Linked DNA regions of Homo sapiens. The main gene of each other region encodes a partner of the protein of the gene in region 2 in a complex. Each region holds a gene or a part of one and is shown on either strand. Other genes may lie near its edges. A codon is read from its position in the direction of its gene.

Region 1 (9,674 bases), on a different chromosome or scaffold from region 2:
CACCTGGGAGGGCAGAAGAGGAAGTCCTCCAACTGTGTGTTGTGGGGAGGTGGCCACTCAGAGTTCTCCCATGGGCTAGACACCACTCCACCCAGCCTCCTCTGCTCCTTGGTCCTTCACCTAACCTTGCCCCCATCTGCATGGTACTCTGTCTCGTCAATGTCCAGCAGCCGAGCCAGCCCGAAGTCTGTAATTTTGACATGGTTGGGACTCTTGACCAGCACGTTCCGAGCGGCCAAGTCCCTGTGTACGAGCCGCACATCCTCCAGGTAGCTCATCCCCTGGAATGGGAAGCACCCATGTAGACCTTCTGGGAGGGCCTGGGCCTGGCCACATGCCCAGCAAGAGTCCCCATCCTAGCCCCTTGTGGACATAGGGGTTTGCTCCGGAGAGACCTGCAAAGAGCCCAGGTGCATACCTTGGCAATCTGCATACACCAGTTCAGCAGGTCCTGGGAGCCCAGGCGTCCGCGGTTTTCCCGGACATGGTCTAAGAGGCAGCCATAGGGCATAAGCTGTGTCACCAGCTGCACCGTGGATGTCAGGCAGATGCCCAGAAGGCGGGAGACATATGGGGAGCCCACACCAGCCATCACGTATGCTTCCTGGGGACAAGGGTACGCTGAGAGGGTATGGGAGACCACACACCCCCAAACACCACACAGCCTCCCAACCATCACAAACCACAGCCATGGCCCACAGCCTGTGAAGGCTCAAAGTACCAGCCTGGACAACATGGTGAAACCCTGTCTCTACTAAAAATACAAAGATTAGGCCGGGCACGGTGGCTCACACCTGTAATCCCAGCACTTTGGGAGGCCGAGGCGGGCGGATCATGAGGTCAGGAGTTTGACACCAACCTGGCCAACATGGTGAAATCCCATCTCTACTAAAAATACAAAAATTAGCCGGGCGTGGTGGCTCGCGCCTGTAATCCCAGCTACTCAGGAGACTGAGGGAGAAGAATCGCTTTAACCTGGGAGGCTGAGCTGAGACCGCACCATTTCACTCTAGCCTGGGTGACAGAGCGAGACTCTGTCTCAAAAAAAAAAAAAAAATTAGCGGGCGCTTGTAATCCCAGCTACTCAGGAGCCTGAGGCATGAAAATCGCTTGAGTCCAGGAGGTGGAGGTTGCAGTGAGCCGAGATAACGCCACTGCACTCCAGCCTGGGTGACAGAGCAAGACTCCGTCTCCAAAAAAATAGTCTAGGTTTGCGGGAGTCATATCTCCCCAAACCCCAATGAAGAGAGACCAGAGCCCAGACCTGCAGCCATGGGGTCCTTCCTGTCCTCCTAGCAGGAGAGGGTGGAGGGGCTTACGTCTAAGATTTCTTTGTTGGCTTTGGGGGATGTGTTTTCCCTCAACACTTTGATGGCCACTGGAATTTTCACATTCTCCCCATCAGGGATCCAGATGCCCTGGGCAGAAAGAGGAGGATATGAGTGAGAAGAGCGTGGGCTGGATCCTACCTGCCTTCCAGGAGATCATTACTTGTCCTCCAAACATCCTTCACCACCCTAGGGCTTGGCCCCGCTCCCTTCTCCGCTGTAACTGCCCTCCCCCAAACACTGCCTCCAGCTCTTGCCCCTCCCATCAGAACTGCCGACCACACCCCTCCAGGCACCGCCCCCATCCTCTGGGGCCGCCCACCCCAGGACCTGGCCCTGACCTTGTAGACTGTGCCAAAAGCGCCAGATCCAAGCACCTTCACCTTCCTCAGCTCCGTCTCTTTCAGGATCCGCATCTGCGCCTGGTTGGGCATCGCTCCGCTAGGTGTCAGCGGCTCCACCAGCTGGGGTGAGGGGGTGGTGGGTCAGTGCCGGGGGCCGGTGCAGACCCCACGCGGGCTGGGAGGACTTCACCCCGCCTCACCTCCGTTTCCTGCAGCAGTCTCCGCATCGTGTACTTCCGGATCTTCTGCTGCCGTCGCTTGATGAGGATCCCAAAGACCACCCCCAAGACCACGACCAGCAGAATGCCAACCACCGCAGAGATGATGGACGTCAGAGGGCTGGGGGCGGAAGCCAGGGTCAGGGATTGAGGGCTAGTTTGGGGTGGGAGGGACAAAGGGGGCCCACGGGGGACATGAAGGTGTTTGGCATTCGGAAAGGGAAGTCGGAAGGGTGACCCACAGGCTTGGACCCTCTCCTACTCTAAAACCTGCCTTGGCTCCCCGCTGCCTCCACAATAAAGTCCAAACTCCTTGTAGGCAATCAGAACCCTCTCCGCATCTCCAGATTCTCTATACTCTTGCCCTTGGCTCTGGCTTAGGGCTTCAACAATTCATGGTGTAAAAATCACTAAGGACTCTGGGCGCGGTGGCTCATGCCTGGAATCCTAGCACTTTGAGAGTCTGAGGTGGGCAGATCACAAGGTCAGGAGTTCGAGACCAGCCTGGCCAACATAGTGAAACCCCCGTCTCTACTAAAAATACACACACACAAAAATTAGCTGGGCGTGGTGTGGGTGCCTGTAATCCCAGCTACTTGGGAGACTGAGGCAGGAGAATCGCTTGAACCCGGGAGACAAGAGGTTGCAGTGAGCTGAGATTGTGCCACTGCACTACGGCCAGTGCAAGACTCCATCTCAAAAAAAAAAAAGTCACTAAGGAGACTGTTAATACACATGCCCCTCAACACCAAGGGGCTACGTCCTGATAAACCAATTCTAAGTTGAAACTGAAAATGCATTTAAGACACCTAGCCTGGCTTACACGTGCTCAGAACATTTACACTGCCAGCAGCTTACAGTTGGGCAGAATCATCTGACACAAAGCCTATTTTATAGTAAACTGTTAAATAAGTTTGTGTTATTTATTTATTTATTTTTGAGACAGGGCCTTGCTGTGTTGCCCAGGCTGAGTGCAGTGGTGAGATCATGGCCCACTGCAGCCCTGACCTCTGGGCTCAAGCAGTCTTTCCACCTCAGCTGCCCAAGTAGCTGGGACTACAGACACACGCCACCACACTCAGCTAGTTTTTTTATTTTTTGTAGAAATGGGGTCTCACTATGTTGCCCAGGCTGGTCTCGAGCTTCTGGCCTCAAAGGATCCTCCCACCTTGGCCTCCTAAAGTGCTGGGATTACAGGTGTGAGCCACGGTGCCTGGCTATGTAATTTATTGAATACTGAAAGTAGGGCTGGGCATGGTGGCTTGAGGCTGAGATGGGCAGATCACCTGAGCTCTCGAGTTCGAGACCAGCCTGACTAACATGGAGAAACCCCGTCTCTACTAAAAATACAAAATTAGCCGGGTGTGGTGGTGCCTGCCTGTAATCCCAGCCACTCTGGAGGCTGAAGCAGGAGAATCGTTTGAACCTGAGAGGTGGAGGTTGCGGTGAGCCAAGACTGCGCCATTGCACTCCAGCCTGGGTAACAACAGCAAAATGACATCTCAAAATAAATAATAAATAAATAAATAAATAAAAATAAAAGTGAAAAACAGAATGGCTGTATGGGTATTCAAAGTACGGTTTATACTGAATGTATATTATTGCTTTTCCACCATTGTAAAGTCAAAAAATCCTAAGTAATATCACAAATCAGCACACAGTCTGTATGCATACAATTTTGGGGCCCCACCCCCAGAGATTCTGACTGCTGCATGGGTACAGGAATGTACACCTGATGATTTTGATGTTCTAGCCAAAATTTCCACCCACAGGTCATGATTTTCCACACCTCCCAGTGTTTGCATAGGCTGTCCCTTCAGCCTGGACCACCATTTCTCCACAGGGTCATCTTTTAAGACTCGGCTCCGCCAGGCACGATGGCTCACACCTGTAATCCCAGCACTTTGGGAGGCCGAGGCAGGTGGATCACCTGAGGTCAGCAGTTCAAGACCAGCCTGGCCAACATGGCAAAACCTCATCTCTACTAAAAATACAAAAATTAGCCGGACGTGGTAGCGCATGCCTGTAATCCCAGCTACTGGGGGGCTGAGACAGGAGGATTGCTTGAACTGCTTGAACCTGGGAGGCAGAGGTTGCAGTGAGCCAAGATCGTGTCATTGCACTCCAGCCTGGGCAACAGAGCAAGACTCCATATCAAAAAAAAAAAAAAAAAAAAAAGACTTGGCTCATCGCCAGGAGTGGTGGCTCACTCCTGTGATCCCAACATTTTGGGAGGCCAAAACTGGAGGATCACTTGAGCCCACGAGTTTGAGACCAGCTCGGGCAACATAGTGAGACCCTGTCTATACAAAAAAAATTTTTTAAATTACCCAGGCGTGGTGGCACGCTCCTATAGTCCCAGCTACTGCAGAAGGGTAACTTGAGCCCAGGAGGTCAAGGCTGCAGTGAGCCTGTGATTACACCACCACATTCAAGACTGGACAAGAGAGCAAGACCCTGTCTCAATCACTCAATAAAAAGATAGCGTATCTGGCTGGGCACGGTGGCTCATGTCTGTAATCCCAGCACTTTGGGAGGCCAAGGTGGGCGGATCTTGAGGTCAAGAGATCGAGACCATCCTGGCCAACATGGTGAAACCCCGTCTCTACTAAAAATACAAAAATTAGCTGGGTGTGGTGGCATGTGCCTGTAATCCCAGCTACTTGGGAGGCTGAGGCACAAGAAGCGCTTGAACCCAGGAGGCAGAGGTTGCAGTGAACCGAGATGGAGCCACTGCACTCCAGCCTGCAGGCAGAGTGAGACTCCGTCTCAAAAAAATAAAAAAAAGATAGTGCATCCTGGGATAGATGGAGCTCCCGGGTGTTGATCCAATATTCTTGTCACCCTCTCCTCTCCATACCCCCTTGCTTAGCACAGGGTCTGGTACATACCAAGCCTGTAACACATGCTCATTTCACGGACCGATGATCGCCTAAGACAGACTCCAGTCTGTTTTTCTCCCCAAAGTCCTTTCCAAAGGTCCCCACTGCCCAGTCAAGTCCCACCCTGTGGCTTGGGGATCAGGTCCTATGGCATCCAGGTCAGACCCCACCCTGACTCTAACTTGACCCCCTTATTCCTGTGCTTACTCAACAGCCCCCGACACCAGAACTTTGAAGACATCCTGGATTTCCTGATGCCTCCCCCTCCAGTGTCACCTTGCACCCCAATGCTTTCTACCTAAATGCAAGTGCAATACCTGCTCCTCTCTCAAAGCCTAGCTCAAATGCCACCTCCCACTCGAAGCCTCCCACCATCCCCAGTTAAGAATTCATCACTCCCTCAGTGCTGCAGCTGTACTCTTCTCAGTCTCCCTTGACTTCCAAGGAATTGAACTTTGCCTGTGTCCCTCACAAGGCATCAAGTTACTCTAGGGTGTGGAGGGACTGGGTTTCCTAGCCATCTTTCCTTGCAGTCCCCTCCCCTCAGCATCTGAGCAGGTCCTCTGTCACTTGGTGAAGTGGAAAATGACAGGAGGTTCCACAGTGGAAGAGTGGGTGGGAAGGGACATATGTCAGGGGGTCCCCTCCCTACAGCAGTGACCACCCAGCATCCAGTGGGGGAGTGAAGGGCAATGAAGGGTACATCCTGGGGTCCAGGCCAACCTGGCTCTCTGCTCGGCGGGGCAGCCCTTGTCATCCAGGTCCACACAGCTGCAGGAGAAACAGTCTCATCAACAATTCTGGGAACCACCCTCTTGGGAACCACCTTTCCAGCCTCACAACAACCCTGGGAGGGGTGTGGCTGGGTCATTATCCCCATTTGACAAAGGCAGAAACTGGGCTCAAGGCCGTCAGTGCTCCTTCTACCACCTCACAAGGAGACTCCTTCTCCAGCCAAGGAACCGGCATGCCCCGCTCCCCTGCAGCTCCTTGTGGTGGATAGGAAGCGGGGAGGGGCACCCAGAAGAGCAAGCCCGGGAGCTCAACTATTCCCTCCATAGAAGAATCCCAGGGTAAACCCATACCACTTCTCCAGAGAACGGTTTGGCAATACCTATGAAATATCATCTATGACCCAGCAGTTCCTCCTCTGAATATAGACTGTACATACTGTTTGCAAATGCTTTTTTCACTTAGCAGAATCTTGCAATGTTTTTCCATGTTCTAACACCGTGATCTGGATCTAGGATCCATATGGATCTGGACCCATATTCTTTTTTTTTTTCTTTTTTTTCTTGAGAAGGAGTTGCACTGTGTTGCCCAGGTTGGAGTGCACTGGTGCAATCTCGTCTCACTGCAACCTCCGCTGCCCAGGTTCAAGCAATTCTCCTGTCTCAACCTCTCAAATAGCTGGGATTACAGGCGCCCACCACCACGCCTGGCTAATTTTTGTATTTTTAGTAGAGACGGGGTTTTGCCATGTTGGCCAGGCTGGTCTTGAACTCCTGACCTCAGGTGATCTGCCTGCCTCGGCCTCCCAAAGTGCTGGGATTACAGGCGTGAGCCACCATGCCCAGCCTGGATCCATATTCTTTTAATTTTTCTCATTTAGTTGTCTTTAAATTGAAATGCATGAATATATCCTTGTGATAAACATTGCCAGCACTGTATTCCCACTAGGGGGCATACAAAAGAGGGCTCACTTGTGTGTGGAGCTCAATTGCAATAAACTGCAAAAACAGGGAAACAAGCTCAATATCCCTCAAAAACAAAGTGAAATTACATCCATGTTACAGGTTGAGTAATTAAAAAAAAAATAAAGGTGGTAGATCCGTCTGTACTCACAAGAAAGGATACCTCAAGTCGGGGGGAAAGCAAAGTGCAGAACAGCATCACCACACCTGGCTAGTTTTTGTATTTTTAGTAGAGACGGGGTCTCGCTATGTTGGCCAGATTGGTCTCGAACTCCTGATCTCAAGTGATCTGCCTGCCTCAGCCTCCCAAAGTGCTGGGATTACAGGTGTGAGTCACTGCGCCCAGGCTCTTGACACTTTTTGGTTTACACAAACAGCAATCTTATTTGACTCGACCTAATATAAATGTAGTATGTCTATATAAGTGTGCAGAAAAGAGCCTGGAAGGGTGAACACACAAGTCAATGCGGTGGTTCTCCCAGCAGACAGGAGAGACTGGGTGGACAGGGAGTTGAGTGAAAGGGCACGTTGGCTTTGTAACATTTATACTTTTATGTTACTGAAAATGTTTATCACAAGGATGTATTCATGTGTTTCATGTGTAAAGACAACTAAATAAGAAAAATTAAAAGAATAAGGTAGATCACCATGTTAGAACATGGAAAAACATTTCAAGGTTCTGGAAAGTGAGAAAAAGCAATTTGCAAACAATATGTATGATCTATGATTCTATTTGTTAAAAAGAAATATATGACTGGGCATGGTGGCTCACCGCTGTAATCCCAACACTTTGGGGGACCGAGGCTGGCAGATCACCTGAGGTCAGGGGTTCGAGACCAGCCTGGCCAACATGGTGAAATCCTATGTACTAAAAATACAAAAATTAGCCAGGCAAGGTAGCACGTTCCCGTAATCCCAGCTACTCAGGAGGCGGAAGCAGGAGAATTGCTTAAACCCAGGAGGTGGAGGCTGCAGTGAGCCAAGATTGTACTACTGCACTCCAGCCTGGGCGACAGAGTGAAACTCCGTCTAAAAATACATATGTGTGTGTGTGTGTGTGTGTGTGTGTGTGTTAAAATGTGCACAGATAAAAATAACTGGAGAATAATATTAATATATGTTAACTTATATATACATATTAGAATGTGCACAGACAAAAATAACTAGAGGAAAAATATTTCAAATTATTAACAGTGGGGATAGAACTGCTAGGGCATTAATTTATATTTCATGTTTTAATTTTACAATTTTAACAATGTGTTATTTTTGTCATCAGAAACAAGATATGACAAAGGGAGAGTTGGTCCCCTTTTATAGTAAGAGCCCCAGAAAGACCCCTGAAAGGAAAGTCCTCCTTTCTGCAGAAAAGACCGTTGGACTCACGAGTGGGTGCAGTTGATGGGGCAAGGCTGGCATGCGCCCTCCTCATCTGGAAACTTCCAGATGGGCATGTAGGAGAGGTCAGGTTTCACACCGCTGGGGCAGCGGGCCACGCAGAAGGGAGGGTCCTTATAGTGGGCACAGGCCACACACTGGTCAGCCTCCTGGGGGGGGCAGAAAAGATTTGTGGGGGGCTGGCACTGACACCCCCAGGGCAGTAGGATCAGGCCCTTAGTTGGGTCCCCTTTGTGCTTCCCAAGGCCACCCAGCAGCAATTTTCGCCATGCTCCTGGGACAAACACCCTTGCTCTTCACCCAGTCTCTGTGGCCCCTCCCTCGGGGCCCTCCTCCAAGCTTGATCCTGGGCAGGGACTTGAGCCAGAAAATGGGAGGCACCCAGAGAGGAAAACGCATTACCTAAGGTGTAACAGCGAGTAACAACAGTCACTGCTCTGTAGAAAGCCTTTCCCGTGCTTCACTGTGCCAAGCCCTGTTTAATTTCATTCTTGCCACACCCCAGCAAGGTAGGTATTATTACAATACCCATTTTAGGAATAAAAAACCAAGGTTGGAAGCAGGAGCTGGGTCTGAATCCAGGTAGTCTGACGCCTGAGCCCACAGGGCTCACCACCCTAGCACAGCCACAGTCACAGCCACCAACACAGACCTCCTTAGAACCTTTTCATAGTCTGAAGGGCCCCAGTGTCCCCCAGGCCCCTTTTCTGCCACTCTGTTGCTGTTCAGGTCTGAGCGCTGAGCCCTCTCCAGGGATATTTTACCAGATAGCACACCCTACTGCATCTCGCCATCCTGCCAAGTCCCTGGCAATCCCCCTCGCTGCCCCCCTCCACCCAGCTCTGAGCCCGCCAGCAGCTCACCGGTCCAAAACAGGTCACTGAGCCATTCTGGGGCTGACACTCAGGGTGGCACGGCAAACAGTGCCTGGCATTCACATACTCCCTGGGGAGCCTGAGAGAAGGGACAGTGGTGAGGGGGTCTGAGAGGAGCCCCATGCACCCCTCCAGCCACCCTCTCCTCCGCCCCTCATACCCCTGCAGTACTCGGCATTCCTCCACGCACTCCTGGCCCCGAAGGAACTGGCTGCAGTTGACACACTGGGTGGGCCCTGGACCCCAGCAGTGCCCTCGGGCGCACAGCTGGTGGCAGGCCAGGCCCTCGCCCACTGCAGTGAGGAGGAAGGGACCGCAGGGGACTTTTAGGGGAGGCCCCAGGTCCAAGTGAACCAGGGAACTGGCTGTGGGCATGGCTGTGGGCTGGAGGGGTGGGGACAGGTGGGGCCGATGTAGGGAGAGGAAGAGTTCTGAGATTTCAGAAACAGAGGGGGAGGGAAGGATGCCAAGGCAGGTAGGACCCAGCTAGAGAAGCCATGCCAAGAGGCCAAGCCAGCCAGAGCTGTGCTGAGTCAAGAAGGGTGCACAGAGACGGGCAGTCTGCACAAGTCCAAGAACGCTGCTGCCAGGGCCCCCTGGGCACTGCTGTGTGCTGGCAGATGGGGAGTGCGCACACTGGGCTCCCTGTCTTACCACACTCGTCCTCTGGCCGGTTGGCAGTGTGGAGCAGAGCTTGGTGCGGGTTCCGAAAGAGCTGGTCCCAGGGCACCGTGTGCACGAAGCAGAGGTGGGTGTTATGGTGGATGAGGGCCAGTCCACTGCCCAGTTCCCTCAGTGAGCGCAGCCCCAGCCAGCTGATGCCCAGCCCTTGCAGGGTCAGCGAGTAGGCGCCACTATGGGAGAAAGGTGGGCACCTTACCACGGACCCCTTCCCGGTCAGCAAAGGCTATTCTCATCTTCCTCCATCCCCAGCACAC
Region 2 (9,674 bases):
ACCTGGGAGAAGAAGGGTGCCGTGGGTCTCATGGAGAAGCTGAGGTGTGTGGAAGCTGGCAGACATGAAGAAGGCCATCCCCCCGCCTCCAGGTCCTCCTGGTTCACTGCAGCCACATCCACAGGACTAAGCTCCATGCCCCATCAACCCCAGACTCCTGGGTTCACTCAAAGCAGCAAAGTCCCAGCAACCCAGGCTCTACCTGACTTACCTAGCCCACCGGTCTGAGCTCCACCCGCCACGTCCTCGTAGGCGCCAGATCCGGCAGGACTTTGGTCAGCAGGAACTGAGGGCAGCAGACCCCCCACGGGTCAGCTCCGGAAGCCCCAGGGAGTCCCAAGACCCCACCCCTAGCGGGGACGCTTCCCCGGAGGCCCGAAGGGGAGAGCCGAGGGCGCCGGGCGGGAGAAGGCACACACCCCGGACGTGGCCTCCAGCCTTTGGGCGCGGCCAAGACAAGTATTGCCAGGAACCCTGCCCCTGGACCGCGACTGCGACCGCCAGGGGGCGCTTCCGGGGCGTGGCCAGGGACGCCTGGACATCAGCGTCGGGGCGTGGCCAGGCTAGCGGCTGGGGTCCCCGCGGCCGCCAGGGCCTGACGGACCACTGCAGGATGGTTCCGCCCTGCGGATCACAGCAGGATGATGCCCTGAGAAGGAGCAAGCCTCGACTCACCGCGGCCAGGCAGCGTCCCCCTCGCGTCCTCCGCGTGCGCCCCGGGTCGCTGGGCGCGCGGCGTCACCTTGCTGTAGAGCGGCGCCTCCTCCGCGCTGCGCGCCCCCGTCCCCGTCCCCGTCCCCGTCTGCGTCCCACTCCCGGCGCCCGCTGGAGCCCCGCGCTTCTGCACCACCGCGTAGGTGTCAGCCATGGCGTGGCCCGGGGACCCGGGCACAGAGATGCTCCTGCAGGCAGGGAGGGCCGGGAGGAAGTGAAACGGCGGCGCTGGGCAGGGCGGGAGTGGGGAGGCTGCTCAGCGCGCAAACCACGGGCTTCCTTCCCGCCGAGGCGGTGCGCTAGATGGGAGGGAGGGCTCCTTGGGTTGGAGGCCTCGCTTCTGTGTCCCTAGCGCCCTGCAAGTTAGGGGGATGAAGGAGGAACGGGGTCAGCCTGGAGGGTAATTTGGGGCAGAGTGTTGGTTTGAGGGGTGGTCATTTCTGTGTCAACGTCTACTGAACAAAAGAATGCGGAAGTGGCATAGAAGACAGGAAGGGATGGCCGCAAGGACAAGGGCCTTAAGTCTCCGCTGCGAAGGCGGCTCAATCCCATGTCCGCAGCACCCAACGTGCGGCCTGACAAGAAGGCGGCGTCTAGAATTATTTGCTGAATTTTTTTTGTTGTTTTTTTGAGACAGGATCTCGCTCTGTCGCCCAGGCTGGACTGCCGTGGTGCGATCTCGGCTTACTGCAACCTCCACCTCCCGGGCTCAAGCGACTCTCCTGCCTCAGCCTCCGGAGTAGCTGGGATTACAGGCTCTCACCAGCACGCCTGGCTAATTTTTGTATTTTTAGTAGAGACAGGGTTTCACCATGTTAACCAGGCTGGTCTCCAGCTGGGCTCAAGTGATCCGCCCTCCTTGGCCTCCCGAAGTGCTGGGATTACAGGGGTGAGCCACCTGAATTAAGGTTTGATTAGAGGATCCAGGAAAGGCCTAACTCAGAAGGCAGGGCAAGCCTTAGAGGCAGAGGCAAGGGGTAAATGAATCATCTTGGGATAATTGAATCATCTTGGGGTGGGTTCCCAGAGCTCAATTCGAAGAAAGGGCCAGCGAACACTTGGCGAAGTGAACAAGGAACGGACTGGTGTTCCAAGGATGAAGAAGGGGTTAGCCTGAGAAATTGGGCAGGGAAGAATCCGGGGATGGAGCCGGGTACCTGAGGACCCCTCCTGGTGGGCGGGGTATGGCGAGAAGTGCCTGGGGAGTCCGGAGGAAGAGGGCATCGTCGTAGAGTGGGGCACAATTCTGAAGAAAAACAGGAGGGGAGGCTCCTGAGGGAGGAAGCTGGCCAGGCCTCTCAAGGGGCTCTGGGAGAAAGCTTAAGATGGGAGAGCCTGATAAGGATGCCTGGAGGAGGGCACAGGTGGATGTCATAGTCAGTGCCTGCTCCCAGTAGTCCCGGGGGCTGGACCCTGCTCGGGGTCCTGGTCTCTGAGGGTGCTGATGGTGGACAGGAGAGTGGGAAAGGAGCCTCTGTACCTCTTTGATGTTCTGGTAGTGGGGGCTGGCATTCTGGAGTGTGGAGCAGAACATCTGAGCCACCGTGTGGTACAGGAACCTGTACTGCTCCTGTTGGGGTGAGGGACCATCAAGAAGGGAAGGCAGGGGCAAATGACAGCAGTGGGCCACTGTCCCTGAAGATTAGGAGACCCAGGGTTCACCTCTGTCTGCACGGCCGCAGGCCGCTGCTTCCTCATCTTAAGGACCACATCAAAGAGACTGAAGTCAGGTGGGATCATCTGGGGCAGACAGACAAGGCACTTGAGCAGGACACGTGGTCATGGGCAGCACACTGCACACACAGGATGCCTGTATCGTACCTGGGTCAGGAGCAGCTGCCTCACATAATCCACGGTGCACAGGACGCCTGTTCGCCCACAACCCGCACTGACAAGAGAATCAGAGTGTGCCTGGTCAGGTCCTGACCACAACCCCTTTTAGATGGGGCATTTGGGGATGGGGGTGAGGGTCCTGATGGATCCCCTGCAGAGCCTCTTGATTCCCAGAATCTTCAGATTATATCTGAACAAGGAAAACCTTTTTAATCACTTACATTTTGTTGAGCAAGAGCTGTGTGCTTATTCCCCAGCTGAGTCTGTGCTGAACAAGTGCTCACAATTACAGTCCATGGAGGGTGAGCAAGGGTTCTCAAAATAGGCACTCAGACTACAAGACTAGCCCCATGCCCTGTACTCCCCTCCATGCTCTGTCCCCTCTGCCTCACCAGACCCTCCTGAAGCCCATTTCCAAAACCTGCAGTGGACACAGAGGGGTTCAGGGCCAGATCCCTGGAGGCGACGGGCTTCCTCCACCATGGCGAGCATGTGGTCAGGACTGCTGGGGACCCCACGGTCTGGCCAGGACATATACTGTAGCTGGTACACAGAACGGGACTCCTGAAACACAGAAAAAGATGAGCAAAAGACTTAGGAAAAAAAAGAAAAAAGCATTAATTGGCCATCTACTATACACCAGGCCCACTTCTAGGCATCTTCCATTTATGTCTACCAGACAATAACTGAGGAAGTGGGTACTAGTATGATGCCCATTTTTACAGGAGAGGAAACCTCTCCCCTTTCAGGAGCCCCTTTACCTCCTCCTCCCCTGTCACAGTACCTTCTGGAATGTGACCTTGAGGGTCCTGAGCATGATGTCCTCATTCAGCCACTTCTCCTTTATCTGAGTAAGGGGGGTGGGGCAAGTAAGAAGAGGGAGGAGAACAAAGATCATAGGTACCAGAAGACATTTATAGAAAGCAAAGCATTCCTGATTAAAAAATCAAATACAGAAAACATTTTAAAAATTCATATAGCCCAAACTTTCCCCAAAGCTTTCATTAAGGAAACATTTGACACAGGAGCAAAAGAGGAACTATTATAAAAACACAAGCCCTTTTGCAATGAAAAGAGATGTCTTTTGTTCTAAAATGAAACTTTTATTGCATTTATTAAGTACTAACTGTATGTATGACTTGAGAGAGTTCCCCAAGCTCTTTTGAAATGGTAAGAGAAGTAAGAATTTCAACAACCTAACCAGGCACATTTACATGACAGAGATTAACTGATTGTAGCCAAAATAAAAATGCAAAGGCTATCCCTATAGTAAGTTCTAACTATTTGCAGGCTAACACCAGAGGGTTTCCTGCAGTATGAGTGGACTGTGGGTTAAATCATTCAACCTTTTAGGCCCAACCCAAAGCCTTTCCACCCTGGGAATCTTCCTTGAAAACTCCCACAGCTCACCAGAGTGATGCAGAAAAGCCCAGTCTGCAGTGGCTCCTGCTCCTGGGCCCAGTACCGCTCACACCTTTTCTGCAAAAGGTAAGGGAGAAAAGGCAGGGAGTGAGAAGAGGGAGTCAGCTTCAGAGCTAGCTCAATCATGCCACAAGACACCCCAGGTGCTCGTGGTGGAAGCACAGGCAGCTATACTTATAACCTATAACAGACGCCAGCCAACAGAGCCATCAGATTAAACACATGCAGACTCAATGGAGGTGCGCTGCTGACCATGCAGGGGAAATACAGTCCAGGATACCCTCCCACTGTAAGCAACTAGAAACTGGACAAAATACATGAGCCACTATTTTCAGACACTGGTTGGCAGGTGTTGCAGTACTGTGGTCACTGAACAGACCACTCCGGCTTATTGCATGGAAGTGTCACCAGGCTGTAAGACATGAGTCTAATGATCCCACTGAGTTGAGCCAGAGACCATGGCTCAAGGAGGCAAAAGCAGCTAGAATTTGCAGGGCAGAGTCCTGGAAGGAACAGAGGTATGCAAATAAAAACAAAACAATAACTTGCATAGAAGTCCCCTCCTTGATTCTTTGGTTGAATAATCTGAATATATACAACATGAAACCCCATGAGGCCAGGCAAGAATAACTTACCATGAAAGAATAGTAGGGATCTGTAGGATGAACATTTCCTTGAGCTCATGATGAGAAAGAATTCACATTCCCTCTAGCTAGAGTGTAGAGGCATTATCAACTATAAGGGGCATTTAGTAGGGAACCTAGAATGACCACACATTAGAAGTACGGCTAAATTAATTCTAGAACAAAGGCTACTTGATCAACCATCCAAAAGTTCCTGAAAAGGCAAAACACTCTAAAGAAAACAATCCAACACTTACCTGTGCAAAATTCAAAATATCAAGCATCCAATAAAATTTTGCTGGACATACAAAGAAGCAGGAAAGTGTGACCCATAACCAGGAGAAAAATTAGTCAATAGGAAAGGGCCCAGAAATAACAGTTCAGGAAAGAAGCAAAAATCTTAAAATGGCTATTACAAATACACTCAAAGATGAAAAGGAAAACATGAACATGATGCAGAGTGGAATGAAAGATACAAAAAATAACCTGAATGGAATTTATAAAGAGGAAAAATAAAATATATGAAATGAAAAATCCACTAATAGCAGGGTAGACACTAGAAGAAAGGATCAATAGACATGAAAACATAGCAATATAAATAATTCAAAATGAAATGAAAAAAATGAAAAAGAATCAGTTCTCTGTAGAAATATACCAGTCTAGTGTATGTGCACGTGGAGTCCAGAAGGAAAGGAGAAAGGGGGATAACAGAAACTTTATGTAAAGAAATAATAGGTGAAAATTTTCCCAAATTCGATGAAACTATGAACCCACAAATCCAAGAAAGTCAATGAACCAGAGGGAGAATAAACCTAAACCTAAAGAAAGTCACGCCAAGGCAGATCATGATCAAATTACTGAAAAAGAATGAAGAAGAGAAAAAAAAATTTTTTTTTGAGACCCTTGCTCTGTCACCCAGGCTTGGCGTGCAGTGGCTCAATCTCGGCTCACTGCAACCTGCAACTCCCAGGTTCAAGCGATTCTCCTGCCTCAGGCTCCTGAGTAGCTGGGATTACAGACACACACCACCATGTCCAACCTTTTTTTGTATTTTTAGTAGAGACAGGGTTTCACCAGGTTGGCCGGGCTGGTCTCGAACTCCTGACCTCAAGTGATACACCTACCTTGGCCTCCCAAAGTGCTGGGATTACAGGCATGAGCCACCACACCAGGCCCCAGAAGAGAAAATCTTAAAAGCATTATGCACAAAAGGACACATCACATACTGAGGAACAAAGTTAAGAATTATAGCAACATTTTGTCAGAAACGGCAAGTCAATGCTATGATATCCTAAAAATGCTGAAAACCTTTTCAGACAAATGAAAGCTGAGGGAATTCATCACAAACAAATCTGCATTATGAGAAATATTAGAGTAAGCTCTTCAGATGCTTACAGACAGTGGCTGCTCCAGCTATTTGAGAGGCTAAGGCAGGAGGATTGCTTGAGGCCACTTCAACACCAGCCTGAGCAACATAGCCTGTATCTTAAAAAAAAAAAAAAAAAAAAAAAAAAAATTAAAATTAGCTAGGTGTGTTGGCAACATAGCTAGCCTGTATCTAAAAAAAATCTTTTTTAGTTAGCTGAGTGCAGTGGCACACCTGTACTCCCAACTACTTGGCAGGCTGAGGTGGGAGGATTGCTTAAGCCCAGGAGTTTGAGGCTGCAGTGAGTGGTGACTGCACACTGCACTCCAGCCTGTATGACAGAGTGAGACCCTATCTCTTAAATAAATAGAATAAGTAAGCTCTGCATACAAAAGGAACGTGATACAAATGGAAATACAGATCTACACAAAATAACAGGGAGAAAAGTAAGTGGCTAAATGTAAAAGATATTTCATTTTAAACATCTTTAAAAGATAATCTAGTGAATTTTATCAAACAAAGAGGAATTAATACCAGCCTTTCACAAACTCTTGCAAAAAACTGAGAGGAACCATTTCCCAACATATTGTATGAGGCTAGTATTACCCTGGCACCAAAACCAAAGACATCACAAGAAAAGAAAACTACTAACCAATATCTCACAAACATAGACACAAAAATTCTCAATGAAGTACTAGCAAAGTATTAAACACCATGACTAAGTGGGATTAATTCCAGGAATGCAAGATTGGTTCAACATATGAAAGTCAATGTCATACACCATATTAGTAGAATACAAAACACACGATCATCTGAATAGATGCAAAGAACAAAATTTGACAAAACTCAACAGCGTTTCATAAAAAAGTTCATTAGAAACTCAGTGCCCAGGATTTTTATTGGGGCACCGTCTGCACAGAATGTAGGCACACTCTGCCTAGCCTGTACCAAAATGTCAGACTACCAGCAGGAGAACAGGTGTTCTGCATAAAGCATATTGTTTGTATTAACAGTTCAGGCATAGTGAGCCACTGTTATCAGAAACCTAGGTTTCTAGAGGCCACCCAAGAGTCAACCTTACAGGAAGGCCTTTCTAAGCATAAACATTTATGCTTGCCATGTTTAACTCTTCTGCACAGCAGGGGACCTACCCAAAATAGCCAAAACAATCTTGGAAAAAAGAACAAATTTGGAAGACTCATACTTCCTGATTTCAGAACTTCTACAAAGGTATAATAATCAAAACTATGTTACACTGGCACAAGGATAAACACATCAATCAGCTTAATAAAATTGAGAGTTCAGAAATAAACCCTTATATTTATGGCCAATTAATTTTCAACAAAGGGGCCAAGACGGTTCAATGGGCAAAGCATAGTCTTTTCAACAAATGGTGCTGGAACAACTGGATAGTCACATGCAAAAGAGTGAATGTGGACCCCTATCTCACATCACATACAAAAGTTCATTCAAAGTAAATCTGAGACCTAACTGTAAGCAAGAAAACTATAAAACACTTAGAAGGAAGAACAGGAGTAAGTCTTTATGACCTCTGATTAGACAATGACTTCTCAGATACACCAAAAGCACAGCAACACAATAGATTGGAATTAAAGTTTCACAAAATGTTTGTGCTTCAAAACACACCATCAAGAAAGTGGAATGACAACCCACAGAATGGGAAAGACATTTTAAATCATGTACTGATAAGGGACTTATATACAGAATAACGCTTACAACTCAATAATAAAAAGACAACCCCAAATAGCCCAATTTTAAAATGAATAAATGACATGAATAGACATTTGGCCAGAGAAGATATACAAATGGACGAATAAGCACATGAAAACCAAAACCACAATGAGGTACCACTTCCCACTCATTAGGATGGCATATATGTCATTGTCATATGCCACATAATGATGTTTTGGTTAACAACAGACCACATATACAATGGTGGTGCCATAGATTATAATGGAGCATATGTAGAAACCTGATACATGGCACTTGATATTGACACTGCATATTAAGTTGGGGAAATGATTGATACTCAGTAATGGTGCTGGGACATTTGGTTTTCCATATGAAAAATATATAAATAAAAAATGTATATACTATCTATGTTTGTGTAAGTATACTCTATGATGTTTACACAATGACAAGATAGTCTTAACAATGCAGACCATATCCCTGTCATTAAACTACACATGTCCCTCCCTCCCTCTCTCTCTCTCTGCTGATGGGAACGTAAAATGGTACAGCCACTGTGGAAAACAAAATGTTGAACATAGCGTTATCATATGATCCAGCAATTCCATGCTAGGTGTATACCCAGGGAACTGAAAACAGGGATTCAAACAGATACTAGTATACCAATTTTTTGTTGTTGTTGTTGTTGTTGTTTTGAGACGGAGTCTCGCTCTGTCGCCCAGGCTGGAGTGCGGTGGTGCGATCTCGGCTCACTGCAAGCTCCGCCTCATGGGTTCACACCATTCTCTTGCCTCAGCCTCCCGAGTAGCTGGGACTACAGGCGGCTGCCACCACGCCTGGCTAATTTTTTGTATTTTTAGTAGAGGTGGGATTTCATCGTGTTAGCCAGGCTGGTCTCGATCTCCTGACCTCGTGATCTGCCTGCTTCGGCCTCCCAAAGTGCTGGGATTACAGGCGTGAGCCACTGTGTCCAGCCTGTATACCAATGTTTGTAGCCGCCTTATTTACAATAGTCAAAAGGTACAAACAACCCAGATGTCCAACAGGCGAATGGATAAACAAAATGTGATATATACATACAATGAAATATTATTTGGCCTTGAAAACAGTGAAATTCTGATACACACTGCAACATGGATGAACCTTGAAAAAAGGACAAGTATTGTATATTAGTGTATTCCTGATTCCACTTGCATGAGGTACCTAGAATAGGCAAATTCATAGGGACAGAAAGGAGAATAGAGGTTACCTGGAAATGGGGGAATGGGGAGTTATTGTTTAATGAATACAGAATTTCTGTTTGGGATGATGAACATGTTCTGAAAATAGACAGTAGGAATGGTTAATCCATTGTGAATGTACTTAATTCAATTGAATTGTACACTTGAAATGGTTTAAATGGCAAAATTATTTTTAACATTCCTCACAGCACCTATAAACTGGCAAATTTTATGTTATGTATATTTTACCACATAATTTAAAGAAAGACACAATGGCATACCACTTCACAACCCCTAGGATGGCTATAATTAAAAAAAAAAAAAAGACAGTAACAAGCATCAGGGAGAAGAAATGGGGACCCTCAAACATTGCCGTGGAAATGTAAAATGATGCTGCCACTGTGGAAAACAGTTTGGCACTTCCTCAAAATGTTAAAAATAGAGTTTCCATATAGCCCAGCAATTCCCAGCAATACCCAAGAGACATGAAAACCCACATCTACACAGAGACTTGTATATCAGTGTTGATAGCAGCACTGTTCATAATAGCCAAAAAGTAGAAAGAACCCAATTTCTGTCAACCAATAAGTAAAATGTGGTAGATCCATTCAATGGAATAGTATTCAGCAAACAAAACAAAACAAAACAAAAATGCTAAGCAAAAAAAGGCTACATATTATGTGATTCAATTATATGAAATGTCCAAAGTAAGCAAATGTATAAAGGCAAAAATAGATTAGGGATTGTCTGGGGCTGTAGAGGTTGCTGGGAAATGGGGAGTGACTG

The links.
Region 1: the proteins of PTPN18 (region 2) and ERBB2 are in contact, whole or in part, in a crystal structure (PDB 4NND), measured with the Homo sapiens proteins. Residues at the interface, in NP_055184.2 of Homo sapiens: Arg61, Tyr62, Lys63, Asp64, Val65, Arg138, Asp197 (codon at 3,069), Arg198 (codon at 3,066), Ser230 (codon at 2,970), Ala231 (codon at 2,601), Gly232 (codon at 2,598), Cys233 (codon at 2,595), Gly234 (codon at 2,592), Arg235 (codon at 2,589), Arg268 (codon at 2,409), Ala273 (codon at 2,394), Gln276 (codon at 2,385); in NP_004439.2 of Homo sapiens: Leu1109, Gln1110, Arg1111, Tyr1112, Ser1113, Glu1114.

Annotation. Positions count from the first base shown.
Region 1 is NC_000017.11:39,715,656-39,725,329, reverse strand, and holds part of ERBB2 (receptor tyrosine-protein kinase erbB-2 isoform a precursor), read right to left. Parts: intron 9,612-9,674; coding exon of another isoform or gene 9,591-9,611; coding exon 9,391-9,590; intron 9,060-9,390; coding exon of another isoform or gene 9,030-9,059; coding exon 8,897-9,029; intron 8,816-8,896; coding exon 8,725-8,815; intron 8,264-8,724; coding exon of another isoform or gene 8,162-8,263; intron 8,011-8,161; coding exon 7,850-8,010; coding exon of another isoform or gene 7,846-7,849; exon of another isoform or gene 7,673-7,845; intron 5,544-7,672; coding exon 5,496-5,543; intron 2,012-5,495; coding exon 1,873-2,011; intron 1,793-1,872; coding exon 1,670-1,792; intron 1,419-1,669; coding exon 1,320-1,418; intron 605-1,319; coding exon 419-604; intron 282-418; coding exon 126-281; intron 4-125; coding exon 1-3. UniProt on the Homo sapiens protein: Protein tyrosine kinase that is part of several cell surface receptor complexes, but that apparently needs a coreceptor for ligand binding. Essential component of a neuregulin-receptor complex, although neuregulins do not interact with it alone.
Region 2 is NC_000002.12:130,363,485-130,373,158, reverse strand, and holds part of PTPN18 (tyrosine-protein phosphatase non-receptor type 18), read right to left. Parts: intron 4,027-9,674; coding exon 3,958-4,026; intron 3,395-3,957; coding exon 3,332-3,394; intron 3,112-3,331; coding exon 2,969-3,111; intron 2,603-2,968; coding exon 2,536-2,602; intron 2,455-2,535; coding exon 2,377-2,454; intron 2,285-2,376; coding exon 2,195-2,284; intron 1,961-2,194; coding exon 1,872-1,960; intron 903-1,871; coding exon 676-902; intron 287-675; coding exon 212-286; intron 3-211; coding exon 1-2. UniProt on the Homo sapiens protein: Differentially dephosphorylate autophosphorylated tyrosine kinases which are known to be overexpressed in tumor tissues.